Linked DNA regions of Homo sapiens: region 2 is linked to region 1. Evidence: fine-mapped expression QTL. A gene starts in region 1. The other region holds a variant in brackets. All regions are shown on one strand. Distances are from middle to middle.

Region 1 (15,643 bases):
CAAACGAACAAACCACAAAACACAAACCATGACATTTATGGAGTCTTTACCACTATTCTAAATGCTTTAACGTTAACACAGCAATTGTGGGAGTGGGTGCTGTTACCACTCTCCATTTTTTAGATAAAGAAATGGAGGCAGAAAGATATAACTTATCTGAAACCACACAATTCTTAAGTGACAGAGCTGGGCTTTGAACCCAGTCACTTTGGTTCCGTTGCTTCCTGTATGGACAGCACTTAGCCTGGTGTCTGGCACATGAATGGAGGCATGTGATCCACAGCCCATCCCTCTTCACTGCTTCCCCCACTCCTCTCTCTACCTAGGCAGTGTAGAGTCCTTGTGTGCATGCTGGCGTCAGCACATCCATAGCCTCCCACCTGCCTCCACCCTCTATCGCTCCTGCAAACGACCACCCTTAGCCACTTAAGGGTGGACAGACTCAGTGGCATGGAATTCCCTCTGGAGGATAGACTCAAGAAAGAACCCATGGATTCCTTGTAAATAGACTCAGGGCCATTTGGACAAGAGATTCCAAGGTCTCACGTACCCAAGCATAATCTAGGAGGTGGGAGGACTAGGGGGGCACAGATTCCAGAAGGTCCTGTGCAATCCTTGCCATGTGGGGAGGGGCAGGGGAAGAGCAGGGTCTCCTCTAATGATGACACCCAGACCAGGGGCCCTGGCTGCCCAGGGCTAAGGACCGTATCTACTGAAGTTGGCCAGCCTAGGAGCAAAGAGCCATTTGTTGTCATTCTGTGCTGCAGCCTCCTTCTCCTTCCCAGCCTCCCCAAGTGTCTTATAAGGCAGTGGCATCCCTGATATCTCACACGCGCTTTCCTCCTGCTGCTGCTGCTTGGGCTTCCACTTTGTTGCTTCAATTCTACCATTACCTCCTTTGTGTTTAAAGAACCCACTCTCTGCAGCTACCTGGTTCTTATACCTGTGACTGAGGCAGTGCTGGGGTGTGGAGCAAGGCATCTGAAATGCCCCTGTGAGTCTGGCCACTTCTGGTGTATATGTTGGGGGGAACAATAGAGGGCAGGGGTTTATGCTAAAGTGGCCACTTCTTCCTGCCCCCTGCTCAACCTCGTCACCTGCAGGGCATGCAGCTTCCTTATCCAGGCTCCTGCAGTGTGTCTGTCCCATTCTCTCCAGATCACTGGTGCTTTCCAGACCCAGCTAGGCTGTCTTCTCTGGCTTGAGCATGCTCTTTTACTTATCACCCTCCAAGCCTTGCTCCCTTCTCATTTTCTGCTTCCCAATCAGGTCCTCCTGTATTCTATTAGTACATTCACTCCCAAATGAAATAATCTCTTTCTTTTTACAGAATATATACAAAATTACCCCTTCTTCTCTACTCCACCCTCCCATCCCCCTGCCATTATCCATCCTGGAGAAATAAGTTAATGACTCATTTAGAGAGGCCACGAGGGAAAACACCTGCTCCCAACCCCATTGTGTGGGATGAGGATGGGTAAATGTTCAGAGGACTTCATGGCACATAACTCTTGGCATTAGGAAAGAAACAGCGACAAGCCACCTGTCTTATCTCCCTTACCTGTACTTGGCCTCTGCAAGGTTTAGAAATGGAATCCTCTCCAGGGTTCAGTGTTTATTTCCTGTCCGTTTCTCCAAAAACTGTTCTGATGTGTGAAGATTTGGAAATGAATAGATGGGCCAGCTGGAAAGGTGACCCACAGCTAAGGGCCATCTTATTGAACCCCCAAGAAGTCAAATGTAGTCATCCCTAACCAACCACAGGGCACTTGTGCGCGCGCACACACACACACACACACAAATATGCAAATACTCATTGAACTCAACTCCCTTGAGGTTTGAATGAATAAATATAATCCAATTTTCAAAGTCTTTAACCACATTTGGGAATCTAAGTATTTGTTCTCAGTATACCAATGACATATTCTTTCTGGCAAAAGAAATTTCCTTTCCCCAGACAAATAAAACTAGTACAAGGACGCATACTCTCAACAGAAATCCTGGGAAATCCTGCAAGAGAAAGAGAATCCCTACTACTTTGTTTCCTGCTTCCCTAACCAAGCATCCGACATTCCAACATCAAAGCTTTTAGTCACCACATTTTATTAGCGTTGAATATCCTCTCTACCTCCGAACCAACCCCTGCCATTCTGCCTAAACTGTGCCCATATATTTAGACCTGTCTCAAATATTATTTTGACCAGAAAGTCTGACCTCCCAGCAGGATCAACTTTTCCTTCCTTTGTCTTTCTTTCTTTCAGCCTTACTTTGACATTCAGCTGATCATTCCCTGTCTTATCTTGCTTGTGCTCACCGCTGTCTGTCCTTTTACGTGTGGAGGTCAGAAACGTGTCTGGTTCGTGTACATCACCTCAGCACCCTGCACAGGGGATGGCACAAAACAGCCACTCAAAAAGTAATTGTTGATTACAATTGATCTGACCATTTCCTTTGGTGACCCTTTTGTCTTTGTGGTAGACCAAAGTCATGATCTTTGATCCCTCCTGCCATGTTCTCAGAAGCCTTGTGCTTGGGATTTGGACAAAGTGACCCTTTTTATAGAGGTTATTTTTTTCCCATTCCTCCAGCTCCTTCTTTGCTGTTTTTCTAGTGCCCATAGTAGCAGATGCACATACTTCAACACCCTTTCCTAAAAATTCTGAGCTACCCATACATTATTTTATTGTTAAATTGAAATGGAAATTTGCTTTGATAAGAATCTCTCAGTAAGAGTCTATTATCCGTGTTATAGATGTATCTCCTACCGTGCAAATGTTAGTTTTCTCCTGTGTTTACTTTTTCATGTATTTTGTATTTTGGGGACCTTTGTGGAGCTTACATTTCAGTCTTTGTTAGCCTAATTGCTATTCAATATCTATATCAATAATTGTTCTTCCCAAAGGGTGAAGAAAAAAATGGACTACTTCAAAACAAACACACCATTCAGTTTTCTAAAAGAGCTGACTTCACAAGACTGCTCAGAATCGCGACTGGCAGCTTCTGCCTTTGTGGGAAGGCATGAGTGTTTAGTCATTTCACTGTGTTTTGCAATCACAGAAAGCAGATCAGGGAAGGTGGGAGTTGTAGATCTCACATTTTGAGCCCTGAATCTCAGATACTGCAGAAAACTTTCAACGACATCACTAAACAATTCTACCGTTCAAGAGGCTCTTTAAACAGACCTGTTTTTACGAATGGCTATTTTTTATATTAAACCAACCACCCTGGTGGGTGCCTGCATCATTGGTTTTTTGGCCCCAAACCAGGTTGCCGAAGAGAGTAGCAGTACCTCTATGAAAGCCAGCAGAGGGGTAGGTAGACTGATGTTTGATCCCAGTTCTTAGAAGAGCCTCAAGAAAGGACTTTGTGAGGGTTTAACATCTTAAGCTCCTGTGATCAAAACAGAGTCAACATGAGAAATGTGAGGCGGTCTTCAGAGACAGCTCCATAAACTGTCTGGAGGCTGGGAAAGAATTTGTCATGCATGCTTAATATGTAAAGCACTCTTTAGAATAAATGGAAATTGGTGATGGTAATGTCCGATGGGAATTACTATTTCCTACCTTCTCTTGTCAATAATATAAGCAATAAAAAAGCCCACAACTGAAATTCTGATGATACCCTCAGAACAGTTTCCCCAGTACTCTGCTCGCTTTAGAACATGGTACCTGAACCTTCTATTTTCTTTCCTACCCCACACCTCTGTTTGAGAGATCCGACCCAGCTTCTAGGAATTTGGTTTCCAAGATTCCACTTCCCCCCGCCCCCCGCCCCAATTCCCCTTGCACATTTCTGCGGTATTTCTTCCTCTTCTATCTAAGCCTACCAGAAAAAAATTAATAATAAAATAAATACTGAACCATCCCTCTACTCGCTGGTCCAGGGCCTCAATCAAAGGAACAGCTTGATTCCCAAAGCGTGGGAAGGGAGGAACTGAAGAAGTGCCCCCACTCCTCCCAGTAGAGCTATTCAAGATGCCTCCGGGCCCAGCTCACCGGCAGCACGCAGACTGCTCTCAGAGGAACTGGAGCGCCCGAGCTTCCTGCGCGCAACGCGCCAGCGCTCCACTTCCAACTCTGCTACCAAGTGAGCATATGAGCCCCCTTTTACCTTTTGGGGCAGCAGCCTGAAGAAATTTCCCTGTCCAGCCCTTCTAATCACACTGTGTCTCCTCCCTCCCGCAGCGACGACACTCCCCAGAGAATGGCTCTCCCAAGCTGGTGACAGGTGTTATCCCCCTGCTAACGTCTGAGCTCCGGGGCTGTGCAGCTAGGTCGGGCTCAGGGTGTTCCCGCTGGCCCAGTCCGGAATGATAATTGTCATAATGACTCCATTGGAGGTGGCTTTCCTTTGCCGTTTCTCCTGTGGGCGGACCAGGATGGTCAGTTCTTTTTCTTAACTCCAAAAGCGTTTCTTGCCTACCAGCTCTAGATTCCTGGGGCAGCCCCGCAGCAAGTAGGACCTTGGCGCTGCTGCAGTCTCGTTTGCCAAGACGCAAAGGAGTGTTTGTGCCGACGGCTGCCCTCTCCGCAGAAGTCGCTGGAATAAACGGGCACAATTGTCTGTGCATCATTTGGCTAAGCCCCGCTCCCCGTGCCAATTTCTCTACATTTTTGCTGCTTGTCTTCGCTTCTGGGCGCCCCCACACTACTCAGCGTGGGAAGAGTAAGGAGAGGCTGTGGGGTGCGGAGCGGAGGTTGGCTGTCTGGCCCGTGGGGCTCGTCTCTATCCCTTTGCCAATTTCCTCTCTCCACCCGATTTCGAAGCATCTCCTCTCCAGAGAAGGTCCTCGGCCTATCCACAGGCTCCTCCTCCATGCTCTGCCCATCCTCCTCCCACCTACTTCTTAAATGGGGCCCCCCCCAGCCCTCCTTCATCCTTTCACCTCTTTACCGCCCGGGGAAGGCCACCTTGCCCCGACGGCGCGCCCTGGGCCTGAGGCCTGCGTCAGTAGGCAGAGCTGCTGGGCAGCAGGTCGTAGCGCCCCCCGCTGTAGACCACGACGCCAGGTGGGTAGTAGAGCAGGTCCGGCTCCGCGGCCGCGTGGGGCGGCGCCGGGGCCTGCAGCCCCTGATCCTCGTGCTCCGGCTTGGTAGTGGCGGTGAAGGGGCGCATGCTGGTGATCGAAGGAGACGCGATGCGCCACAGCAGGCTCTTGAGCGCCTTGCGGAACTCGCGGCGCACGAGGCAGTAGAGGACGGGGTTGAGGCAGCTGTTGGAGTGCGCTAGGCACACGCTCACAGGGAACGCGTATACCTGGCACAGGAAATACTCCTGGCTGAAGGGCACCGCGTTGAACTTGATGAGGATGCTCCAGGTGGTGAGCGCCTGGTTGGGCAGCCAACACAGGAAGAAGGACAGGACAACGATGGTCACTGATTTGGTGACCTTCGACAGTCTCCGGGCGCTGGCTCCGGTCGGGCGTCCTCCGGCTACCGCGGCCCCTCCTTTGGTCCCCGCCGCGCGGCGGTCGGCGATGAAGCGCACCAGCAGCAGGTAGCACAAGATAATGATGCCCAGCGGCAGCACGAAGCCCAGCAGCACCTTCTGCGAGTGGTAGAGGCCCAGCCAGAACTGCCTGTCGCGGCCCAGCAACTTGTCCGGGAAACGCACCAGGCACAGCTCCTCGCCCATCACCTTGACCGTGGTGGAGAAAATGGCACTGGGCAGCGAGGCCAGCGCGGCCAAAGCCCAGATCCACACACACAGCGCCTTGGCCGAGAAGCAGCAGCTGTCCCCCAGGCTCCGGCCGCAGCAGTCGCCCCGGCCGTGTCCTCGGGTCCGGTGGCTCTTCAGAGCCGAGGCCACCGAATGGTAGCGCGTCACACTCATGGCAGTGAGGAAGAACACGCTGGCGTACATGTTCATGGACGTCACCATGGACACGATCTTACACATGGCCTTGCCGAAGGGCCATTTGAAGTCAAGAGCGTTCTCCACCGCCCAGAAGGGCAGGGTGAGCACAAACTGAAAGTCCGTCAGCGCCAGGTTGGTGACGAAGAGGTTGATAGAGGACTTGCGCCAGCCCTGCATGCTCTTCATCAGGTAGAGAACCAGCAGGTTGCCCGCCAACCCCAGGGCGCACACCACCCAGTACACCACGCTGATGAGAATCCGCACCCGGGCCTCTGTGTCCGCGCTCTCTGCCCCGCCGCTGCCCGGGGGATGTCCTGGCGGCGCGCCGTCCGGCAACTCCAGCCCCAGCTCCCACCACAAGTCCGGAAGCTGCAGCGACGCGTTACCACTCGTGTTGGCCGCCTCCAGAAGGTCCGGGACCAGACTGAAGAGTTCTGCTAGCTTGTCCCCGCCTGCTGCCTTATTCATGGTGGCTATCGTGGCTGCATCGGCCATCTGCATGCGCAGGTACCTCTAGGTCATGTTCTGGGGGACAAGACCTAAGATAACACGGTTTACCCCAGTTTTGTTGCCAGGCTAGCCTGCGGGACGTGCGTGGGAGCTTTCAAAGCAGCTACTGAAGAGAGAGCCCAGGAACTGGGTACTAAGCGCGTCCTGGCGCGCAGCGAACGCCCTGGACGCAGGAGTTGAGCTCAGCGGCTGCTTTGGAGCAGAGTTGAGGAGTGCAGCCCGTAAGGCAAGCACTCGGCGTCCAAGGGTTCTCAGGCCAAGCTCGGAGTCCCTAGGTCCTTATGTACAACGCAGACTTCCCCTCTCCGTGTCCCGCGGTCACTGGGGCACTGGCGCATAACTCCCCCAGCCGCTCAATTGTGCGATTTGGGGCCGCTCGCTCCCTTTCAAATACCTTTATCCGTTTCCTCTGGGACTGCTTGGATGAGGTTTCCGTCCTTGGAGAGAAAGAGATCGTAGAGTTCCATCCACCACGCTCAGCTTCCTGGAGGTCAGTGGGTGTCTGCGTCTCTCCGCGGTTGTCAACTCCGGGTGGGTTGCCAGCGGCTCTCACCAGTTACGGTGGCACTTGCACGGCCAAGGCGGCGGGCCCCAAGGAGCATGCGTAATCCCGGGGCGCCGCGAGGGGCGCTTTCCGAGGTGCTGAACCCAGCCGCGCCCGCGCCGCGAGGGAGAGTTGAGCTGCAGGCAAAGCCCACCCGCCACTCCAGTTTTCCTCTCCAGAGTTTCAGCAGGAAGGGTCTTAAGAGTTTATTTTACAGCTGCAGGAGAAAGTCGGCTTTGACGTGAGTTTCTTCTTCCTTTCTTATTCCCAAACATTATGATTAGAAGTTTTTTTTTTCTTTCTTCCTCACTCCCACTTTTCACCGGAATTATTCCATTTGGTGAGGAATTGTTCTAAAAATATGAGCTATCCTGCTTACTTTCCTTCTTGAAAGTAATAACAGTGGCCTCTTTTCATGCTCAAATGAGATAATGGGTACTTATTGGATACACAAAGGACAGCTCCACCTCCCCTCTTTAATTAGCTGACCACTTACGCAGTACCTGTGTTTGTCAGGATTTTCAAAGGGTCTTCACATGGCAGAAGTCTGGGCTCAAGGGTTGCCCCTACTTTAATGTATTCTGAGAGGTGACACAAAAACAGAGCAAACAACTGATGGTCCTACTTCACAGAAATTAAATGCCCTAAGCCCAAAGCGCTTCAACAAATTGTTTGATCACATACAGGCCACAGTCTCTTTACCTAGATGCAAATAGAATAGAGGATACCACTGGGCTGATCGTGAACCACCAGCCCTCCTATTTCCATTACTGTTAGCATCAGGACTCTTTTTCAGGCGTTTTTCAGACCAATGGAAGTACATTCTAAGGACTCTTCCAAGGGAATGAGTGGAAACCACTTGAATTACTTCTCAAGCTTCAGTCTACATAAATGCCAGGTCAATCGCTCTGGTGTAAATTACACTTTTAGGATTTACTTTAAAATTTTGAAATGTTTTCCTCTTGGTCTGGGACTAAACTGAAACCAAAGTTTCTTAAGCATAATTGTCCTCACTCCTGGAGTACTACAGAACTCCCAGCTTTACTTAAGGAGATAAAGAGGATGCAACCTTCAAGCTGAGGAGATAAGAAACAGAAAAAGAAAGAAAGAGAAAAACGAAAAAGAAAGAAAGAAAGAAAGAAAGAAAGAAAGAAAGAAAGAAAGAAAAGAAAAGAAAGAGAAAAAGGAAAAAAGAAAAAAAAAGAAACAAGAAACAATCTTGATTCCAAAGGACTTTTAGCCCTGAAGAGCACACACCTTGCTACGGATGCTGCACAGCTCCGTCTTCCCACTAGAGGGAGTAAGGGCTTTAGTAAAAACCTAGCCAAACACAAACATCTCCTTTGATCAGTTCTTACCTGGAGATCACCCCTGCCCTGAGGATTCCTCCCAAAGCACAGGTTATTTCTATGGATGACTATTATCCTGGTTTTAGTAGCCTCACTTTCACACTCAGTTTTGACTTTATTTTTAACTGGTTATTTCTCCATCAATTTTCTCTCTCTCTTCATCTATGTCTCTATTTCTCTTTTCTAATATTTCAAGGGGCTGTTGAAACACAAGAAAAGCTGGGGCATACCCTGAAAGCTCTCTGCTGTTAAATTTTTGGTATGTTCACACCAATGACCTCCATCTAACACATACACAGCTTCTCAGTGCTTCTAGGCACACCCAGGAATATATCTACTTGGTCTGCTCCAAATCACATGTACATATTCATACTTTATGAAAAAATTATAGGGGCCTGATTCAATTCATCTCACATTCATTGGCCACTTACTCTTGCCAGGCACTGAGATAGGCTGAAAGACATAAGTCCTCTATTTTGAGCGTCTCTGGAATTCTTAATCTAGATGAGTGTGCAATCTACTAGTGTCTAAAACTATATTTTTTGTTTAGTTTTGTGCATGACTAAGTTATCTAGAATGTAATGATTCATGCCAGATAAGTGGACAATAATTTTACCTCTTTTATTATTTCCCTTTTTTTTTAAGGGGTGGGTAGGTAATAAATAGTTATACCTTGATGGGATATTCCAGTTTTAGGTTTTTTGGGAGGGGGTACTCTATGTTGGTATTTAAAGAAACCATAAAGGAGGAAGGGTGCAGAGCTTGTTATGTTACATATGTGGTCTGTTTTTCTGTTCCTCTTCTTACCAAAATTGAAACCAGGCTGTGATGGGGGCCTGGAGGAAAATCAGCATCAAGAAACTGTCTCTCATTCACAGTGGCAGGGTATGGGATCTTGAAACCTTTTTCTGGGCTTCTTTTGTGTTCCTGAAGCCATGTGGGCCATGCGAAGCCATGAGGACAGCATAAAATCATACTCTAGCATGTAACCATTGGGAGCCCATGATCATAGAAGGGAAGAAATCACCTGCTTTGGTCCAGCATTTTGCGGAGGAGGCTTGAAGAAATGAAGGTATTTACCAAGAATCTCACCACTAGGAAGGAGCCACACCCGGTCTAAAACATAGTCTTGACTCTTAAGTGATGTCTCTTGATCTATGCTCCATTTTCCAATTTGGATCTAAGTCTTCCATATTGTTTTTCAACACAGGGGTGGGTGGTAGGCTGAATAATGCCTCCCCCCACACACAAATATGTCCACATCCCATTTCCCAAGCCCTTGGATGTTACTTTATACAGCCAAAGGAACTTTGCAGCCACTAGAAGCTTAACTAAGCAAAAAGATGGATTCTCTCCTAAAGCCTCAAGAAGGAAACAGCTCTTCTGACATCTTGGCTTTACTCTAGTGAAACTGATTTTGAATCTCTGATCTCCAGAACTGTGAGAGAATAAATGTACCTTCTTTTAAGCCACAACATTTCTGCCCATGTGTTATAATAGCAATAGAAACTAGCATAGGGTGGGTACACAGCCTGGCTTGAACATAACCTAATGGGAAATGGAGCAATTCTGATTTGAACATGTTGGTTAATCTTAACACCGACTTTGTGCTAGACACTGTGTCATGTACTAGAGATTTAGTGGTACCAGAACTCACATTCTAATAGATGAGAGAGACCTTTTAAAAATTTGAATTCTGGGTTGGGCACACTGTCTCATGTCTGTAATTCCAGCACTTTGGGGTGCTGAGGCAGGCAGATCACTTAAGGTCAGGAGTTCAAGACCAGCCTAGCCAACATGGTGAAACCCCGTCTCTACTAAAAATACAAAAATTAGCTGTGTGTAGTGGCACATGCCTGTAGTCCCAGCTACTCTGGAGGCTGAGCCAGGAGACTTGCTTGAGCCCAGGAGGTGGGGGTTGCAATGAGCTGAGATCACATGGCTGGACTCCAGCCTGGGCAACAGAGCAAGACGCCATTTCAAAAAAAAAAAAAAAATTCTAATAAATTGTATTATTATAATTACAATAAGAAAAAAACAGAGTAAAATAGAAAGTTACAAAACCATGTGCAAGTAACTAACTTTTAACTATTTACAAGCATATTTATCTAATTCTAAGATTCACATCTTATCAAATTAAAGATTTTTAAGATCAATATGGATTTCCAATTGCTATATACCTATTTAGTGAATAATTTTTTTCTCTAGAAAGCTGTAAACAAAAGGTGTGTCTTATAAGCTATAGTATCTTGGAAGAAAGGAAATTCTATAATCAGGTAAATGGGGGTGAGGTGGGGGTAAGGAAAGGGGAAGAAAGAGGACTCTGGGCAGAAGGAACAGCCTGAGTGAAGGCACTGGGCAGGAAAGAGCATGATGCTTTTGTAGGACAGAAAGAAGATGAAGTGCCTATAACACAGGGAGATGAAGTAAATAGTGCTAGATAGTCTGGTGACATGGGCAGGTGTCAAACAATTTCCGACTGCAGAATTTTGATCTATGACTTTGGAGTAATGGAGGACATTGGAAAATTTGAAGCAGGGGAGCAACACAATCAGTTTCGCATATTCAAACCATCACTCTAGATATAGTGTGATGAGTAGACTGGAAGGGGCGGAGCTGATATAAATCAAGACAATTAGGAAGCTACATCAATAGTTCAGGAGAGAGATGATTGTACTTTAATCTAGAGGGATGCGGGGCAGAATAAGATTTAAATAGGCATTTAAGACACTGACTTGACAGTACTTGGGGGTGGACTGCATACAAAGAAAGGGTGAAGGTAAGGACAAATTAAAAGCTTTCAAGTTTTTACCCTGAGCATGTGGGTAGGTAGGCATGCTGAGCAAGTGAGGTGGGGGAAGATGACACATTCAGGCTGGACATATGAGAGTGTGAATGCCCCAATCAGATTTAGATGTCAAAAAGACAGTTGAATACATGAATCAGTGACTCAGAGAAGATAAAAATATGTGGGTCTGCAGTGTATAGATTATAATTGAAGCTTTGACATTGATGAGACTGTCTAGAGAAAAAGTGTAGAGTGAGAAGAAATCTCTTGTTAAACCTGGGGGAAATCTGAGATTGGACTGTCTGGTAGAGGTTGGAAAGCCTGTTGATGATAATTGCTACATGTATATTTAATGAATATTCTCACTGTTTATGACAATGAGAATTAGAGCTAGAAAAGAGGAAAACTAGGAGCCTGTGACATGTGAACCCCGAAAATCCGAGACGGGTCTCAGTTAATTTAGAAAGTTTATTTTGCCAGGGTTGAGGACACGAGCCCATGACACAGCCTCAGGAGGTCCTGATGACATGTGCCCAAGGTGGTTGGGGCACAGCTTGGTTATATACATTTTAGGGAGACATAAGACGTCAATCAATATATGTAAGAAGTACATTGGTTCAGTCTGGAAAGGCGGGACAACTTGAAGCAAAGGCAGGAAGACTCGAAGCGGGGGAGAGAGCTTCCAGGTCACAGAAGGTGATATGCAAAGGGCTACATTCTTTTGAGTTTCTGATTAGCCTTTCCAAAGGAGGAAAATCAGGTATGCGTCTATCTCAGTGAACAGAGAGGTGACTTTGAATAGAATGGGAGGCAGATTTGCTCCAAGCAGTTTCCAGCTTGAGTTTTCTTCAGTAATTTTGGGGGCCCAAGATACTTTCCTTTCACACATGGAAGCCAAGAAATAAAAGAAATGTAGGGGAAAAAAAGCAGGGGCTGTATTTAATGCTGTGTCTAATGTGAGGCCAAGGAAGGCAGGAAAGGAGAAATGTTCATTGGATTTATGGACATGGAGACCATTGAAAACCTTGGGGCACTATTTCGGGAGGCAGATACTGGGAGAGGAGATACCAATGAAACTAGAAAGCTATTCTCATTGACTTCTAGCAACCAAAGAAACTGAGTCAACAGGAGAGACAAAAGTTTGTTTCAGTTCAACTGGCAAGTCAGTGACAGAATTAGAAAGGGATTCAGAGATATTGACTAACATTTCACCCTTTGGTTTGTTAATTGACGCTTTAATTGAGTCAATTGACTCTTTAATTGAGTCGATTAACTGCCTAACAAATCAAAGAGTTTGAGCCTTTGGGGTCCTCAGGCACCACTGCTAATCTAAGCAGTCACTTTAGTCTAAATTAAAATTTCTCAACCTTGAAACTATTGACATTTTAGGCCATATAATTCATTGTTATGTGGGAGGGGCTGCATTGTATGATTATTATTTACTAGCATTTCTGGCCTCTACTTGTTAGATACCAGTAGCAATCCCAGATGTTGTCTTGTCAGACAACCAAAACTGTCTCCAAACATTGCCAGACATACCCTGGAGGCAAATATCTCTTCCTTCCCCAAGGTTGCAAACCACTGGGCTAAACATGAACCATTTGTTAGAAAGGGAAATGGCAGGAGACTGTGAAAGAATCTTTTGTTACTCATTCTCACTTCTAGGAAAACAATTCAAGGGACCTCCCCTTTAGGTGGGAGTTGGAAGGGTGTATAGAGAACAACAGCATGTTACATTTTTGTATGCTACATACACACCCCTCCGAGCATTGGTGCAATGCATCCTTTTCACTGGAAATCCCCATCCTTTCTCTAGATGCTCTTCAGTTAAGCTAAAGCAGAGCTTGCTAATTTCTTTTAAATAGATGAGCAGACCTGCCTTGGGAAACTTCAGAGGCTCTCGCTCATACATTATGGTTAAGACTTCCCTGACATTGCCTAGATGGAAGAGAAGTTCAGGAAACCCGGACCTTGGCACATTGGCAGTTCTGATGTCCACCCACAGTGGAATGGTTTAGTCCTGTGGCTACTGGATGCCGCCTCCATCACCACCGTGCTAAAGAAGGCTCTGGCTCACTCAGGGGCCTGCTCCATAGCCTGAGGACATTGTGCTGCTGGTCCTCCCGAGCCCATTCTGCAAGTGAAGGAAACTACAAACAGACACGGGTTGTACCTTTGGAACTTTGTGTTCAGATGTCTCCCAACTAAGATTCAGGTTAGACTTCTCCAACAGGCATTCTAATTTAATAGGGATTTGAATGTTGGAAAGAGAAGCCCAGGGATAGGGCATTCTTATTTGGAAGTGAGAAATCTGAGGTCTGACACTAAGTAACCAGATAACGATACCCCAGTCAAATGACAGTGTAGAAGCCAAGTCTCACCAAACACAGGCCTCCATAACAACTCTTTCAGTACTGAGTGGTTAAGTTAAATACGAAAAGCCAGTGGCTTTATACAAAGGCTGGTATGTAACAAAAGCCCATCAAGAGTTTTATCTAGGCCTTTCCTGGGCCTTAAAGCATGACAAAATAAAGAAGGAATTCTTAACAGGACCCATTTAGGATGAAACAAGTTTTATCGTGGGGCTGAAGAAACTCCCCAGGCCTCAAACAAGTTCGTTGGGGGGTCTGAAGAAACTCCTCAAGCCTCCGTAATTTAGCAGGAGACAAGATAAGGGTAATCACGCCAGCACCTGGATCCATTTAGATTAAGTAAATTTACTGAGGCTCCAGAGAAAGGTCTTCAAGACTCAGACCGTAGTTATAGATTAAAAGAAGTTAATCACTTATGTCTTTAGATGAATGCACACTTACAAGTAGACATACAGCTTAGAAGGTTTATAAACTCTGGAAAACTTTGTAATTTTGAATAGGTCTGGCGATAATTTCCAGGCCTACTCCCTGTAACCGGCTACAGAAATAAAAACTCTCTTCTTCCCCAGTTCATCTGCATCTCATTATTGGGCCATGAGAAATAGAAGCCCGACCCTCAGTTTGGTCCTGGAACAATGCTTCTGGGTCTCAGGTTCCTCATCTATATAACGAAGGAATTGAGGTTCTTGAATATTCTAAGATAGACACTGAATCGGTGACATCAGAATCAACTAGAGCTTGCTAAAAAATACGGGTTGCATCGCTCTTCAGACCCCAGATTCTGATTCTCAGTGGATTGGAAAGGAGCCCAGGAATCTACATTTCAAACATTCTTCCAGGTGATACTATTTTTTTTTCAAGTTTGAGAACCTCTGGACTAAATTTTATTCTAGTTCTAACACTCTATGTAAACAAATTTTAAATCTCAAAGAATTAATCTGCAATGATGGTTTATCATACACTGCGATTGGAAGTAAAAGACATACAGAGAAGGGGATATTGAAGCCTGACAGGTGATATCTCTTCATTGTTGGACTATGAGGGTCATGTGCTCTGGAGGTACATCAGGCCATGAGTACCAACCAACATGAGACCCAAGCTGAAACTGAAACTGCCTTTGAAAAATTATAAATGAGGAAATTATGACTTTGAAAGAGATCAGACCTAACTGACCCCATCTTGCTTCTATCTTTTAAGCTGTCCTTGCTCACTCCTGGGCATAGGCTGAACTAACCTCGGGAAGGCATTCAGTTTATGATTTGACTCTGAAACAAAATTGATAGCAGCCCTTTCCCCAAAAAAAACCCCTTTTTGCCTTGGGACCAGTCTGCCTTCGTAGGACTAACAAATTAGCTACAAGAGTAGAAATTATGGTTTAAGAGTCATGCAGCCTCTGGCTGCAAGAGTCTGAATCTCCCCAAATTGCTGATGGGGATAACATCAATATTGTAAAACTGAAGATCGGTGCTTGAAATATTTTGCAGACCCTGTACTTGATGGACCAGCTGACACCACCCAGACTATTAATCTGGCTCAACCAGTTCTGCAATCCTACCCAGGAACAGAAGACAGCAAGCAAACCTCACTTTGACCCCCACTATGATTCTATCTCCAACCTAACCAATCAGCACTCCCCACTTCCTGAGCCCCTACCCACCAAATTATCTTTAAAAACTCTGATCCCTGAATGCTCAGGGAGACTGATTTGAATAACAAAACTCCAGGTCTGCTGCACAGCTGGCTCTGCGTGAATGATTCTTTCTGCATTGCAATTTCCCTTTCCTGATAAATTGGCTCTGTCTAAGCGGTGCGCAAGGTCAACACGTTGGGTGGTTACAGGACCCCAGGAGAACTTGTTCCCAAGTGTGACCCTTGGAGACTGCTGCTGGAATGCTAACACACATAGAATGTACTTGACTTTTTGAATCTGTTCTTGAAAATGAACCACAAGATCATGTGTAAGAATTTATACTACTGTTTAACTAAGCCTGTGTTGTGGAACCAAAAAATCCTTTTTCTTTTTTTTGAGATGGAGTCTCGCTCCGTCGCTCAGACTGAAGTGCAGAGGCACGATCTCAGCTCACTGCAACCTCAGCCTCCCAGGTTCAAGCGATTCTCCTGCTGAGCCTCCCGAGTAGCTGGGACTACAGGCACGTGCCACCACACCTGGCTAATTTTTTGTATTTTTAGTAGAGATAGGGCTTCACCTGGTTAAGCAGGATGG
Region 2 (16,037 bases), 800 kb after region 1:
ACCTCATGGAGGTTAAACAGTTTATACAGAGGGATATTTTAGGCAAAAGATCTAGCATTAATGAGCATATTTGGCTGAGAATGAGTGTAACATATTTAGGAATAGAGAGAAGACAATCCTAGGTAGAGCAGAGGGGATGTAAAATGTAAGAAAGAAAATAGTAGGTCAATAAGTAGTCAGGCAAGACCTCAGCCTTGGAACATCTGATTGATGTCTAAGCTTGAGTTTTCAGTCATTGTAGAAGTACTGAAGGGTATTGTACAGTGCTGATTTTGAAAAAAATATATTTTCTGAAAATTAGCCTGTCAGGAGTATGTGAATAACAAGGAGTCAAAGATAAGAGTTTGGTAAGCAAGGTATCAGAATAGGAAGTCTCAGGCTGTGCTCACCCTCCTCGACACAGAAAGTTCAATGAGCAACTATCTACAGACCATAACATCTTTCTGAAAATTTCAATACTTGGAAACAAGGCTGAGACACCCATGTGGTCCGTGGAATTAAATGATAACTGAATTAGAAAAGTCTCACTTTGGCCGGGCACGGTGGCTCATGCCTGTAATCCCAGCACTTTGGGAGGCCGAGGTGGGCAGATCATGAGGTCAGGAGATCGAGACCATCCTGGCTAACATGGTGAAACCCCGTCTCTACTAAAAAATAGAAAAATTTAGCCAGGCATGGTGGCAGACACCTGTAGTCCCAGCTACTCGGGAGCTGAGGCAGGAGAATGGTGTGAACCCAGGAGGCGGAGCTTGCAGTGAGCTGAGATCACACCACTGCACTCCAGCCTGGGCGACAGAGCAACACTCTGTCTCAAAAAAAGAAAAGAAAAGAAAAGAAAAATCTCACTTCAGCTGTGTCACTACCCCCTCAACCCCCTTGAAGTTGGCACAGTGCCAGACAGAGAAGATTCCCCTGGACCCACAGTTTTTATAGTGGGAAAAAAGAAATGGAGGCAGTCATCCAGTGTCCCTAGCATTCTGAGATGTTTCCTTCGTCATCTTATGGGATACACTGAGGGTAATGACATAGCTAAACTGTTCAAAGTCAAGTAGAAACAAAGAATGAAGGTGGAGCTCACAGTGACCAGTGTGTGGATCTTGGTGGTACCTCCGTGTTCCTACCAATTGTGGCACCCAATTGGAGAGCCCAGCAAGTGCATAGCACACCTGCAAAGCTGAACTGGTTGCTTTCAGAAGCACAGTGAAAAGTTTAACTTTGGCTTGAGTCTCTAGACAACTAGTCTCCACAATCAGCCTCTTGAGACACCCCAACCACTTCACCTGGGCAAGGAGATGCTTGCCTTAGCCCATTCAGAGAAGCTTAGGGGCTAGAAGTGCTTGACCTGCAAGTGCAGAATGGCTCAGTTTAGCCAAAAAGCCCCTGGTGACCCCATTCGGGCAAGGAGATATTAACTTCTTCACATTACAGAGAAGCATAGGGACTAGACCTGCTCAACCTTGGAAATTAAACAACAGTTTGACTCAGTCAAAAGTTCACTCTATGGCTCTGCCTGGACATAGAGGCAATCCCCAATTATGCATTTCTAAGGAGCATAGCCTCAGGTTCCACCCTTCTGGAGTAGCAACTCTGCCTAACCTCAGAGGTCAGGGCCACTGTAGACCTGCCCAGTTGCAGATTCCGAATAATGGAACTGCCCAGCCAGGAAATACATCCTGTGACCAGCCTGACCAGACGCCATCACAGTACCAAGCCAGAAGCTCTGCCTGATAGCAGAGCCCAGCAAGTGATCTCACTGGACAGCTGAGTCCAGCCAGTAGCCCCATCTGACATCAGAGCAAAGACAATAACTCAGCCACCTAGAGAACCCACACAAACTCTTCCTGCCTAAGGTTGTCACCAGCTTGCCATTTTAGAATTTCAGACTACAATAAATAATGAAGACCTATCCCTGCCAAAGAACACCTGTAAAAGTTGGAAGAGGAGGCTCTCTCTTTAAATGCACAGACAACACCACAAGGATTGTGAGGAATCAAGAAATCATGACACTTCTAAGAAATACAGGTCTATAAAATGACTGAAAATGAATTCAGAATAATCCTCTTAAAGAAATTCAGTGAACTACAAGAATATATGGATAGAAAATTAAGTGAAATTTGTAAAACAATACACAAACAAAGCTAGTTCAACAAATAGAAACAATTTTTTTACAAAACTAGAAATCCTAGAGATGAAGAATACAGTGACTAAACTGAAAAAATGCACTAGAAAGCTTCATCAGCAGACTTGACCAAGCAGAAAAAGAATCAATGAGCTTGAAGAAAAAGCATCTGAAATTATTCAGTCAAAGGAGCAGAAAAACAAAAGAATGAAGAAAGCCTGTGGGAATTATTGAACACTATCAAGACACCAAACCTTCGCATAATAGAAGTATCAGAGAAGAAAAAAGAGAGAAAGGGCCAGAAAGCATATTTCTGGAAATAATGGCTGAAAAATTCCTCAATTTGGGGATAGATGCCAACATTCAGGTATAGGAAGTGCAGAAGTCTACAAATTCTACCAGTAATAATCAAAATATCAAAAATCAAAGGCAAAGAATCCTGAGATCAGCAAGAGATAAGATATATAAAGGAGTCTCAATATCACATATAAAGGAGTCTCAATATGACTATCAGCAGATTTCTCAGCAAAAACCCTGCAAGACCGGAGAGAGTGTGATATTATATTCAAAGTGCTAAAGGAGAAACACTGATGACTAAGAATACTTTACATAGTGAAGCTCTCTTTCAGACATGAGGGAGAAATAAAAACTTTAACAGATGAATAAAAACTAAAGGAGTTCATTACCAGTAGATGTGCTTTACAAGAATTGCTAAAGGGAGTTATTTAATCCAAAACAAAAAGCTGCTAATTAAGGACATAAAACAAATGAAAGCACAAAACTGAATGTTAGTAATACAGAGCCATGTTGAGAATACTCTGGGAACATAAAAATGGTGTTTAAAGCAATTTTATCTCTGGCACAAAGGTTAAAATACAAAACTATTAATAAAAGGTGTAGCCAAAATAAATTGTCAAGGGATACACTTTACAAAATGATGTCCATTGTGACATCAAAGATGTAAAATGTGAGGAAGGGGAGTAAAAATGTAGATTATGACATCAAAGTTGATATTAGCTTGAAATAGTCTGTTATAAGTATAATATGTTCTATGTAAGTATCATGGTAAACATAAAGCAAAAATCTTTAGTAGAATCACAAGGAAAAAAAAGAATTCAAAGCATACCACTACATAAAACCATCAAACCATAAAGGAAGACAGCAAGAGATGAAGAAGGAAGTAAAATAACTATAAAACAACCAGAAAACAATTCACAAAATGATAGTAACATGTCCTTACCTATCAATAATGTCCTTGAATGTAATGCATTAAATTCTCCCATAAAAATGCTTGAAGTAACTTAATGGAAAACAGCAACAACAACATGACCCAACTATATGCTGCCTCAAAGGGACTCACCACATTTTTAAGGACACATATACACTGAAAGTGAAGGCATGGAAAAATATTATTCCACCTAAATGGAAACCAAAAGAAAGCGGTAGCTATACTTATATCAGAAAAAAATAGACTTTAAGTCAAAAACTGTAAAAAGAGACAAGGACAGTATATAATGACAAATGGATCAATTCCTCAAGAGGATGTAACAATTGTAAATATATTTGCACCCAATATTGGAGCACCTAAATATATAAAATAAATATTAAAGGATATGAAAGGAGAGATAGATATTATTCAGTACAATAATAGTAGGGGATATTAATGTTCCACTTTCAACAATGGGTAGATCATCCAGACAGAAAATTAATAAGAAAACATTGGACTTGAATAGCACCTTAGACTAATTGGACCTACCAGACTTATACAGAACATTCCATCCAACAGCAACAGAATACACATTCTTCTGAAGTACACATTGGACATTCTCTAGGATAGATAATGAAAGGCCATAAAACAAGTCTTAGCAAATTAAGAAGACTAAAATCATATCAAGTATCTTTTCCAGCCACAATGATATGAAACTAGAAATCAATAACAGGAAGAATTTTAGAAAATTCGCAAATTTATAAAAATTAAACAACATGCTCCTGAATGGACAACAAATTGAATTAAAAGAGAAATTTAAAAATATCTTGAGACAAACCAAAATGGAAATACAACATACCAAAACTTACAAGATACAGAAAAAGCAGTTTTAAGAGGTAAGTTTATAACAATACATGCCTACATCAAAAAAGATATCAAATAAACAACTTAATGTTACTTCTCAAAGAAGTAACATTAGAAAAAGAACAAACTAATCCCGACATTAAAAAGGAAGGAAGTAATAAAGATTGGAGCAGAAATAAATGAAATAGAGATTAGGAAAAAATCTTGTCTGATCTCAGAAGCTAAGAAAGGTTAGTACTTAGGTGGGAGACTAGAAAAACAATACAAAAGATTGATGAAACTAAGAGTTGATTTTTGGGAAAGATAAGTGAAATTGAAAAACCTACATCTAGACCAAGAAAAAAGAAAAAGACTCAAATAAATACAATCATAAATGAAAGAGGAGATATTGCAACTTATACCAGAGAAATACAAAGGGTCACAAATGATGATTATGAACAATTATACACAGATTATCTAACCTAGAAAAAATGGTTAAATTCATAGACATGTATGCCCTACCATGAATGATAAAGAAATAGAAAATCTGAACCTACCAATAATAAGTAAGAAGATTGAATCAGTAATACAAAGTCTTCCATCAAAGAAAAGACCAGGACCTATGGCTTCACTGCTGAATTCTACCAAATGATTAAAGAAGAATTAGCACCAATCCTTCTCAAACACTTAGAAAAAATTGGAGAGGATGGAATACTTCCAGACTTTTTAATGAAGCTAGCATTACCCTGATACTAAAGCAGAAAAGAACATTACAAGAAAAGAAATTACATAAATTTAATATTTTCTATAAATTTTGATGCAAAAATCTTCAACAAAATACTAGCAAATCAAATTCAACAATACATTAAAAGAATCATTTGCCATGATCAAGTGTGATTTTCCCCAGTATACAAAAATGGTTCAACATACACAAATCAATAAATGTGACACACCACATTAACAGAATGAAGGACAAAAAGAAAGCCACCAAAAATCATCTCATTTGATACAGAAAAAGAAACTGACAAAGTTTAACATCCTTTGATGATAAAAAATCTCATCAAATTAGGTATAGAAGGAATGTACCTCAACACAATAAAGGCTGTATATAATAAGCCCACAGCTAACATACTCAACAGTGAAAAATTAAAAGCCTTTTTTCTAAGATCTGGAAAAAGATAGGGATGCCCACTTGTGGCACTTGTATTTAACATAGTGTTGGAAGTCTTTGCCTAAGCAATTAGGCAAAAGAAAGAAATAAAATGTATTCAAATAGGAAAGGAAGTGAAATTGTTACTTTTTGCTGACAACATGATCTTATCTATAGAAAACCTGAAGATTCCACCACAAAACTATTAGGACTAATACACAAATACAGTAAAGTTTCAGGATACAAAATCAACACACAAAAATTAGTAATATTTCTATACACTAACAATGAACTACTTAAAAAAGAAATCAAGAGAACAATCTCATTTACAATAGCCATAAAAAATGTTACTTAGAAATAAGTTTAACCAAGGAAGTGAAAGACCTGTATGCCGAACCCTTTAAAACATTGATTAAAGAAATTGAAGAGGCCAGGCATGGTGGCTCACACCTGTAATCCCAGCACTTTGGGAGGCCAAGGCGGGTGGATCACTTGAGGCCAGGAGTTAGAGACCAGCCTCGCCAACATGGCGAAACCCCATCTCTACTAAAAATACAAAAATTAGCTGGGTATGGTGGCAGGCACCTGTAACACCAGCTACTTGGGAGGCTGAGGCAGGGTAATTGCTCAAACCTAGAGGGTAGAGGCTGCAGTGAGCCAAGATCACACCACTGCACTCCAGCCTGAGTGACAGTGTGAGACTCCATCTCAAAAAAATAAATGAAAGAAAGAAAGAAAGAGAGAAAGAAAGAAAGAGAGAAAGAAAAGAAACAAGAAAGAAAGAAAGAAAGAAAGAAAGAA[G/AGAAG]GAAAGAAAGAAAGAAAGAAAGAAAGAAAGAAAGAAAAAGAAATTTGAGAAAACACAAATGGAAAGATATCCCTGTACTCATGGATTAGAAGAATTATTGTTAAAATGTCCAGCCAAAGCAACCTATAGATTTAATGCAATCTTTATCAAAATTCCAATGTTATTTTTCCTACAAATAGAAAACAATTATGTATTGGTCTGTTTTCATGCTGCTGATAAAGACATATCTCAGACTGGGCGATTTACAAAAGAAAGAGGTTTATTTGACTTACAGTTCCACGTGGCTGGGGAAGCCTCACGTTCGTGGCAGAAGGTGAAAGGCACGTAACACATGGCAGCATACAAGAGAAAAGGGCTTGTGCAGGGAGACTCCTGTTTTTAAAACCATCAGATCTCCTGAGACGTATTCGCTGTCATGAGAACAGCACAGGAAAGACCTGCCTGTATGATTCAGTTACCTCCCAAGAGGTCCCTCCCACAATATGTGGGAATTCAAGATGAGATTTGAGTGGGGACACAGCCAAACCATATCATTCTTCCCCTGGCCCCTCCCAAATCTTATGTCCTCACATTTCAAAATTAATCATGCCTTCCCAACAGTCCCCCAAAGTCTTAACTCATTTCAGCATTAACGCAGGAGTCCACAGTTCAAAGTCTCATCTGAGACACATCAAGTTCCTTCTGACTATGAGCCTGTAAAATCAAAAGCATTTTAGTTACTTTCTAGATGCAGTGTGAGTACAGGCATTGAGTAAATACACCCATTACAAATGGGATAAATGGGCCAAAACAAAGGGGCTACAGGCCCCATGCAAGTCTAGAATTCATCAGGGCAGTCAAATTAAGCTCCAAATGATCTCCTTTGACTTCATGTATTACATGCAGGTCATGCTGATGTAAGAGGTGGGTTCCCATGGTCTTGGGCAGCTCTGTCCCTATGGCTTTTCAGGGTACAGCCTCCCTCCCAGCTGCTTTCACAGGCTGGCACTGAGTGTCTGAGGCTTTTCTAGGCACACAGTGCAAGCTGTTGGTGGATCCACCATTCTGGGGTGTGGAGGATGGTGGCCCTCTTCTCACAGCTCCATTAGATGGTGCCCCAGTAGGGACTCTGTGTGAGGGATACAACCCCACATTTCCCTTCCACACTGCCCTACCAGAGGTTCTCCATGAGGGCCCCACCCCCTCAGCAAACTTTTGCCTGGGCATCCAGGTGTTTCCATATACCTTCTGAAATCTAGGTGGAAGTTCCCAAACCCCAGTTCTTTACTTCTGTGCACTTGCAGGCTCAATACCACATGGAAGCTGCCAAGGCTTGAGGCTTGCACCCTCTGAAGCCATGGCCCAAGCTCTACATTGGACCCCTTCAGACACAGCTGTAGCAGCTGGGACGTGGGGTACCAAGTCCCTAGTCTGCACACAGCATGGGGACCTTGGGCCCAGCCCACAAAACCATTTTTTCTTCCTAAGTCTCTGAGCCTGTGATGGGAGTGGCTGCTGCAAAGGTCTCTGACATGCCCTAGAGACATTTTCCCCATTATCTTGGTGATTAACATTCAGCTCTTTGTTATTTATGCAAATTTCTGTAGCTAGCTTGAATTTCTTCTCGGAAAATGGGATTTTCTTTTCTATCGCATTGTCAGGCTGCAAATTTTCCTAACTCTTATGCTCTGTTTCACTTTTAAAACTGAATGCTCTTAACAGCACCCAAGTCACCTCTTGAATGCTTTGCTGCTTAGAAATTCCTTCCACCAGATAACCTAAATCATCCCTCTCAAGTTCAAAGTTTGACAAATCTCTACGGCAGGGGCAAAATGCTGCCAGTCTCTTTGCTAAAACATAACAAGAATAATGTTTGCTCCAGTTCCCAACAAGTTCCTCATCTCCATCTGAGACCACCTCAGCCTGGATTTTATTGTCCATATAGCTATTAGCATTTTGGGCAAAGCCATTCAACAAGTCTCTAGAAAGTTCCAAACTTTCCCTTCTTCATCTGAGCCCTCCAAACTGTTCCATCCTCTTCCTGTTACCTAGTTCCAAAGTCGCTTCCACATTTTCAGGTATCTTTTCAGCAGCATCCCATTCTACTGGTACCAATTTACTGTATTAGTCTGTTTTCATGCTGCTGATAAAGACATACCCAAGACTGGGCAATTTACAAAAGAAAGAGGTTTATTGGACTTACAAATTCTATATGGCTGGGGAGGCCTCACAATCATGGTGGAAGGTGAAAGGCATGTCTCACATGGTGGCATAGAAGAAGAGAGAGCTTGTGGAGGGAGACTCCCGTTTTTACAACCGTCAGATCTCATGACATGTATTAACTATCACAAGAACAGCATGGGAAAGACCTGCCCCCATGATTCAGTTACCTCCTGCAACATGGGAATTCAAGATGAGATTTGGGTGAGGACACAGCCAAACCATATCAAATTCTAAAATGCATATGAAAGTATAAAAAAACCAAATAGCCAAAGTAATCATGAGCAAAAGGAAAAAAACTGGAGGTATCACACCACCTGATATCAAACTATACTACAAAGCTATAGTAATTAAAACAGCATGGTACTGGCATAAAAATAGACACATTGACCAATGAAATAGAATAGAGTTCATAAATGAATCCATGCATGTATATACCTAATGCTAGATGACGAGTTAGTGGGTGCAGCGCACCAGCATGGTGCATGTATACATATGTAACTAACCTGCACAATGTGCACATGTACCCTAAAACTTAAAGTATAATTTAAAAAACTTACAATAAAATTTTTCTAAAAATAGGAGTTTTATTTGGGCCAGAGATGCCAGCCAACAGTTAATGGGACACATTCCAAGGTTAGAGCAGTGCTATGCTGACCTTGAGAGCTGCACTTGCAGCCAGGCTTGGTGGCTCACGCCTGTAATCCCAGCACTTTAGGAGGCCGAGGCAGGCAGATCACCTGAGGTCAGGAGTTCGAGACCAGCCTGACCAACATGGAGAAACCCTGTCTCTACTAAAAATACAAAATTAGCCGGGCATGGTGGTGCATGCCTGTAATCCCAGCTAAGATTCGGGAGGCTGAGGCAGGAGAATCACTTGAATCCGGGAGGCAGAGGTTGCAGAGAGCCAAGATCGTGCCACTGCACTCCAGCCTGGACGACAGAGCGAGACTCCATCTAAAACAAAAAAAGAGAGAGCTGCACTTGCACAGACAGCCTTTCTGCTTCCATTCATCAGTTGGAGATATTCTGCCTCTGGCCACTGTTTGGATCTGTGGCACTGCCCTGTGCAAACCATAATGAGGGAGGTAGAGAGTTTACAGATGCATTTGTTCAAGGAATTTATCCCTCTTAAGCAAGCAGTTTGTTTAGTGAGTTTTGGCATGGTCCTGTTGTAAAGAGCCAGGCTCCTTTAGCACTTAAAGTATTTTGGAGGAAAGGTGCTATGCAAATTGAATTGATGCTATTTATGACTGCTTTGGTTTTTCTGTAAGTGTCTGGAATGTCTACTCAGAGATTACCAACTTGAGGGCTCAGAAGGCATGCCCAAGAGACCTTGCCACAAGTGGCAGTTCTATCAATATCCAGTTGTGTAAAACGGCAAGATTTTGTGACTGTTGGGAAAGCTAGTGCTATTTATACCATATAAAAGATTGCTCAAGGTCATCCCTCTTACACCAGCTTTAGTAAATTCAGTGTGACGTGTGGTTTTCCTCAATTGTTGATGAAATGTCTCCTTTGGGGACACTCACCAGCAAAGGATAAAGTTCAAACTTTTAAACTGGTATTCAGTGTTGTCTGTGACTCTTCTTTTAGTCTCTGTTTACTACTTACCTACACGAACCTCCTGCTCTGATCAAACAGCGCTACTCACCATTGCCCAACTTTCCACTTTCTCACCAGTGTGTTTTTGTTCACCCCCATCTTCTCCTCCCACACTTCTCCTCCCTAATCCCTCCTTCTTGACCATACCAAAAACTCAGTATCCTCTATTTAAATCCTATATGCCTTTTACGAGGCAGTATAATTTCTGGTCCTCCGTGAGGACAGCTGCAGAGAAATTATAGATGACCTACTGTTTATTCATGTAGTTGGCATTTTCAATTTAGATTATGTTTTGCATTTAAAAAAATGTTTTTAGATTTTAAACTCCTAAAGGGCAAGAACGGACTCTATAACTCTGCATACAACCAAGAGCCCTGTGTAATTAAGAACTCAAAAGTTAATGCTTTTAATGTCACTGATATTATGAAGATAAATAGAGGAATGCAATAGGGAGAGTTGTTAATTACTTACTCCTAGAAATTTACTCTATAATTTTTAAGAAAAATTTATGTTGACCCAGATTCCCCCGAAGAATTTGTATAGATGTGTGAACTTTGTTATCACTAGTGTGCCTTATCAAGGGTGGCTGCTTTTGTGGGGAGGAGTGAAGCTCAGTAAGGCCTGCTGAATGGGATTCTCAGACTTAACATTAATGATCTTTCCCCTAGACATAGAAAAATTATGTTCCTGAGTAAAGATCACTTTTCCACAAATGTGGAAAGTTACCACTTTACCCCTAGAAATCTATGGGTAGCTAGTAATGTGTTCCTGTTTGTCTGCCTGATATTATAATTTGATGTCTAGCTCAACAGTTGTGGCAACATTGTGATTGCTTTTTTTTTTTTTTTTTTTTTGGATTTCCCAGAGGCATCTTTATTTGGCAGAATGACGGATTAGTTTTTCTTATTTTTTTTTCTTTTTTTTTTTTATTATACTTTAAGTTTTAGGGAACATGTGCACATTGTGCAGGTTAGTTAAATATGTATACATGTGCCATGCTGGTGCGCTGCACCCACTAACTCATCATCTAGCCTTAGGTATATCTCCCAATGCTATCCCTCCCCGCTCCCCCGACCCCACCACAGTCCCCAGAGTGTGATATTCCCCTTCATGTGTCCATGTGATCTCATTGTTCAATTCCCACCTATGAGTGAGAATATGCAGTGTTTGGTTTTTTGTTCTTGCGATAGTTTACTGAGAATGATGATTTCCAATTTCATCCATGTCCCTACAAAGGACATGAACTCATCATTTTTTATGGCTGCATAGTATTCCATGGTGTATATGTGCCACATTTTCTTAATCCAGTCTATCATTGTTGGACATTTGGGTTGGTTCCAAGTCTTTGCTATTGTGAATAATGCCGCAATAAACATACGTGTGCATGTGTCTTTATAGCAGCATGATTTATAGTCATTTGGGTATATACCCAGTAATGGGATGGCTGGGTCAAATGGTATTTCTAGTTCTAGATCTCTGAGGAATCGCCACACTGACTTCCACAATGGTTGAACTAGTTTACAGTCCCACCAACAGTGTAAAAGTGTTCCTATTTCTCCACATCCTCTCCAGCACCTGTTGTTTCCTGACTTTTTAATGATTGCCATTCTAACTGGTGTGAGATGATATCTCATAGTGGTTTTGATTTGCATTTCTCTGATGGCCAGTGATGCGGAGCATTTAATCATGTGTTTTTTGGCTGCATAAATGTCTTCTTTTGAGAAGTGTCTGTTCATGTCCTTCACCCACTTTTTGATGGGGTTGTTTGTTTTTTTCTTGTAAATTTGTTTGAGTTCATTGTAGATTCTGGATATTAGCCCTTTGTCAGATGAGTAGGTTGTGAAAATTTTCTCCCATGTTGTAGGTTGCCTGTTCACTCTGATGGTAGTTTCTTTTGCTGTGCAGAAGCTCTTTAGTTTAATTAGATCCCATTTGTCAATTTTGGCTTTTGTTGCCATTGCTTTTGGTGTTTTGGATATGAAGTCCTTGCCCATGCCTATGTCCTGAATGGTAATGCCTAGGTTTTCTTCTAGGGTTTTTATGGTTTTAGGTCTAAAGTTTAAATCTTTAATCCATCTTGAATTGATTTTTGTATAAGGTGTAAGGAAGGGATCCAGTTTCAGCTTTCTACATATGGCTAGCCAGTTTTCCCAGCACCATTTATTAAATAGGGAATCCTTTCCCCATTGCTTGTTTTTCTCAGGTTTGTCAAAGATCTGATAGTTGTACGTATGCGGCGTTATTTCTGAGGGCTCTGTTCTGTTCCATTGATCTATATCTCTGTTTTGGTACCAGTACCATGCTATTTTGGTTACTGTAGCCTTGTAGTATAGTTTGAAGTCAGGTAGTGTGATGCCTCCAGCTTTGTTCTTTTGGCTTAGGATTGACTTGGCGATGCGGGCTCTTTTTTGGTTCCATATGAACTTTAAAGTAGTTTTTCCCAATTCTGTGAAGAAAGTCATTGGTAGCTTGATGGGGATGGCATTGAATCTGTAAATTACCTTGGGCAGTATGGCCATTTTCACGATATTGATTCTTCCTACCCATGAGCATGGAATGTTCTTCCATTTGTTTGTATCCTCTTTTATTTTCTTGAGCAGTGGTTTGTAGTTCTCCTTGAAGAGGTGCTTCACATCCCTTGTAACTTGGATTCCTAGGTATTTTATTCTCTTTGAAGCAATTGTGAATGGGAGTTCACTCATGATTTGGCTCTCTGTTTGTCTGTTGTTGGTGTATAAGAATGCTTGTGATTTTTGTACATTGATTTTGTATCCTGAGACTTTGCTGAAGTTGCTTATCAGCTTAAGGAGATTTTGGGCTGAGACAATGGGGTTTTCTAGATAAACAATCATGTCGTCTGCAAACAGGGACAATTTGACTTCCTCTTTTCCTAATTGAATACCCTTTATTTCCTTCTCCTGCCTGATTGCCCTGGCCAGAACTTCCAACACTATGTTGAATAGGAGCAGTGAGAGAGGGCATCCCTGTCTTGTGCCAGTTTTCAAAGGGAATGCTTCCAGTTTTTGCCCATTCAGTATGATATTGGCTGTGGGTTTGTCATAGATAGCTCTTATTATTTTGAAATACGTCCCATCAATACCTAATTTATTGAGAGTTTTTAGCATGAAGGGTTGTTGAATTTTGTCAAAGGCTTTTTCTGCATCTATTGAGATAATCATGTGGTTTTTGTCTTTGGCTCTGTTTATATGCTGGATTACATTTATTGATTTGCGTATATTGAACCAGCCTTGCATCCCAGGGATGAAGCCCACTTGGTCATGGTGGATAAGCTTTTTGATGTGCTGCTGGATTCGGTTTGCCAGTATTTTATTGAGGATTTTTGCATCAATGTTCATCAAGGATATTGGTCTAAAATTCTCTTTTTTGGTTGTGTCTCTGTCCTGCTTTGGTATCAGAATGATGCTGGCCTCATAAAATGAGTTAGGGAGGATTCCCTCTTTTTCTATTGATTGGAATAGTTTCAGAAGGAATGGTACCAGTTCCTCCTTGTACCTCTGGTAGAATTCGGCTGTGAATCCATCTGGTCCTGGACTCTTTTTGGTTGGTAAACTATTGATTATTGCCCCAATTTCAGCTCCTGTTATTGGTCTATTCAGAGATTCAACTTATTCCTGGTTTAGTCTTGGGAGAGTGTATGTGTCGAGGAATGTATCTATTTCTTCTAGATTTTCTAGTTTATTTGCGTAGAGGTGTTTGTAGTATTCTCTTATGGTATTTCTGTGGGATCAGTGGTGATATCCCCTTTATCATTTTTTATTGTGTCTATTTGATTCTTCTCTCTTTTTTTCTTTATTAGTCTTGCTAGCGGTCTATCAATTTTGTTGATCCTTTCAAAAAACCAGCTCCTGGATTCATTGATTTTTTGAAGGGTTTTTTGTGTCTCTATTTCCTTCAGTTCTGCTCTGATTTTAGTTATTTCTTGCCGTCTGCTAGCTTTTGAATGTGTTTGCTCTTGCTTTTCTAGTTCTTTTAATTGTGACATTAGGGTGTCAATTTTGGATCTTTCCTGCTTTCTCTTGTGGGCATTTAGTGCTATAAATTTTCCTCTACACACTGCTTTGAATGCATCCCAGAGATTCTGGTATGTTGTGTCTTTGTTCTCGTTGGTTTCAAAGAACATCTTTATTTCTGCCTTCATTTCGTTATGTACCCAGTAGTCATTCAGGAGCAGGTTGTTCAGTTTCCATGTAGTTGAGCGGCTTTGAGTGAGATTCTTAATCCTGAGTTCTAGTTTGATTGCACTGTGGTCTGAGAGATAGTTTGTTATAATTTCTGTTCTTTTACATTTGCTGAGGAGAGCTTTACTTCCAAGTATGTGGTCAATTTTGGAATAGGTGTGGTGTGGTGCTGAAAAAAATGTATATTCTGTTGATTTGGGGTGGAGAGTTCTGTAGATGTCTATTAGGTCCGCTTGGTACAGAGCTGAGTTCAATTCCTGGGTATCCTTTTTGACTTTCTGTCTCGTTGATCTGTCTAATGTTGACAGTGGGGTGTTAAAGTCTCCCATTATTAATGTGTGGGAGTCTAAGTCTCTTTGTAGGTCACTCAGGACTTGCTTTATGAATCTGGGTGCTCCTGTATTGGGTGCATATATATTTAGGATAGTTAGCTCCTCTTGTTGAATTGATCCCTTTACCATTATGTAATGGCCTTCTTTGTCTCTTTTGATCTTTGTTGGTTTAAAGTCTGTTTTATCAGAGACTAGGATTGCAACCCCTGCCTTTTTTTGTTTTCCATTTGCTTGGTAGGTCTTCCTCCATCCTTTTATTTTGAGCCTATGTGTGTCTCTGCATGTGAGATGGGTTTCCTGAATACAGCACACTGATGGGTCTTGACTCTTTATCCAACTTGCCAGTCTGTGTCTTTTAATTGGAGCATTTAGTCCATTTACATTTAAAGTTAATATTGTTATGTGTGAATTTGATCCTGTCATTATGATGTTAGCTGGTGATTTTGCTCGTTAGTTGATGCAGTTTCTTCCTAGTCTCGATGATCTTTACATTTTGGCATGATTTTGCAGCGGCAGGTACCGGTTGTTCCTTTCCATGTTTAGCGCTTCCTTCAGGAGCTCTTTTAGGGCAGGCCTCGTGGTGACAAAATCTCTCAGCATTTGCTTGTCTGTAAAGGATTTTATTTCTCCTTCACTTATGAAGCTTAGTTTGGCTGGATATGAAATTGTGGGTTGAAAATTCTTTTCTTTAAGAATGTTGAATATTGGCCCCCACTCTCTTCTGGCTTGTAGGGTTTCTGCCGAGAGATCCGCTGTTAGTCTGATGGGCTTCCCTTTGAGGGTAACTCGACCTTTCTCTCTGGCTGCCCTTAACATTTTTTCCTTCATTTCAACTTTGGTGAATCTGACAATTATGTGTCTTGGAGTTGCTCTTCTCGAGGAGTATCTTTGTGGCGTTCTCTGTATTTCCTGAATCTAAACGTTGGCCTGCCTTGCTAGATTGGGGAAGTTCTCCTGGATAATATCCTGTAGAGTGTTTTCCAACTTGGTTCCATTCTCCGCATCACTTTCAGGTACACCAATCAGACGTAGATTTGGTCTTTTCACATAGTCCCATATTTCTTGGAGGCTTTGCTCATTTCTTTTTATTCTTTTTTCTCTAACCTTCCCTTCTCGCTTCATTTCATTCATTTCATCTTCCATTGCTGATACCCTTTCTTCCAGTTGATCGCATCAGCTCCTGAGGCTTCTGCATTCTTCACGTAGTTCTCGAGCCTTGGTTTTCAGCTCCATCAGCTCCTTTAAGCTCTTCTCTGTATTGGTTATTCTAGTTATACATTCTTCTAAATTTTTTTCAAAGTTTTCAACTTCTTTGCCTTTGGTTTGAATGTCCTCCCGTAGCTCAGAGTAATTTGATCATCTGAAGCCTTCTTCTCTCAGCTCGTCAAAGTCATTCTCCATCCAGCTTTGTTCCGTTGCTGGTGAGGAACTGCGTTCCTTTAGAGGAGGAGAGGCGCTCTGCGTTTTAGAGTTTCCAGTTTTTCTGTTCTGTTTTTTTCCCCATCTTTGTGGTTTTATCTACTTTTGGTCTTTGATGATGGTGATGTACAGATGGGTTTTCGGTGTGGATGTCCTTTCTGTT

Alleles and levels. Alleles are on the strand shown, and positions count from the first base shown. SD is a standard deviation of normalised expression in the study named.
As copies of G replace AGAAG in region 2, the expression in monocytes after interferon gamma of the gene that starts at base 6,712 in region 1 goes up (large effect, 0.81 SD a copy in Fairfax 2014).

What was found. PIP is the estimated chance that this variant, and not a neighbour inherited with it, causes the effect.
Region 2: its variant is fine-mapped to the expression of RXFP3 in monocytes after interferon gamma (Fairfax 2014, PIP 0.95).

The regions. Positions count from the first base shown.
Region 1 is chr5:33,927,455-33,943,097 of GRCh38, reverse strand. RXFP3 (relaxin family peptide receptor 3) reads right to left here and starts at 6,712. Exons shown (of 1, transcript NM_016568.3): 1 at 4,180-6,712. The coding sequence starts at 6,357. The coding sequence ends at 4,948. RefSeq lists an enhancer at 11,555-12,060.
Region 2 is chr5:33,123,199-33,139,235 of GRCh38, reverse strand. No RefSeq gene overlaps it. Among named protein-coding and RNA genes, the nearest start is that of LINC02160, 99 kb to the left of the region's middle. The variant G/AGAAG (reference allele first, on the strand shown) is at 6,121.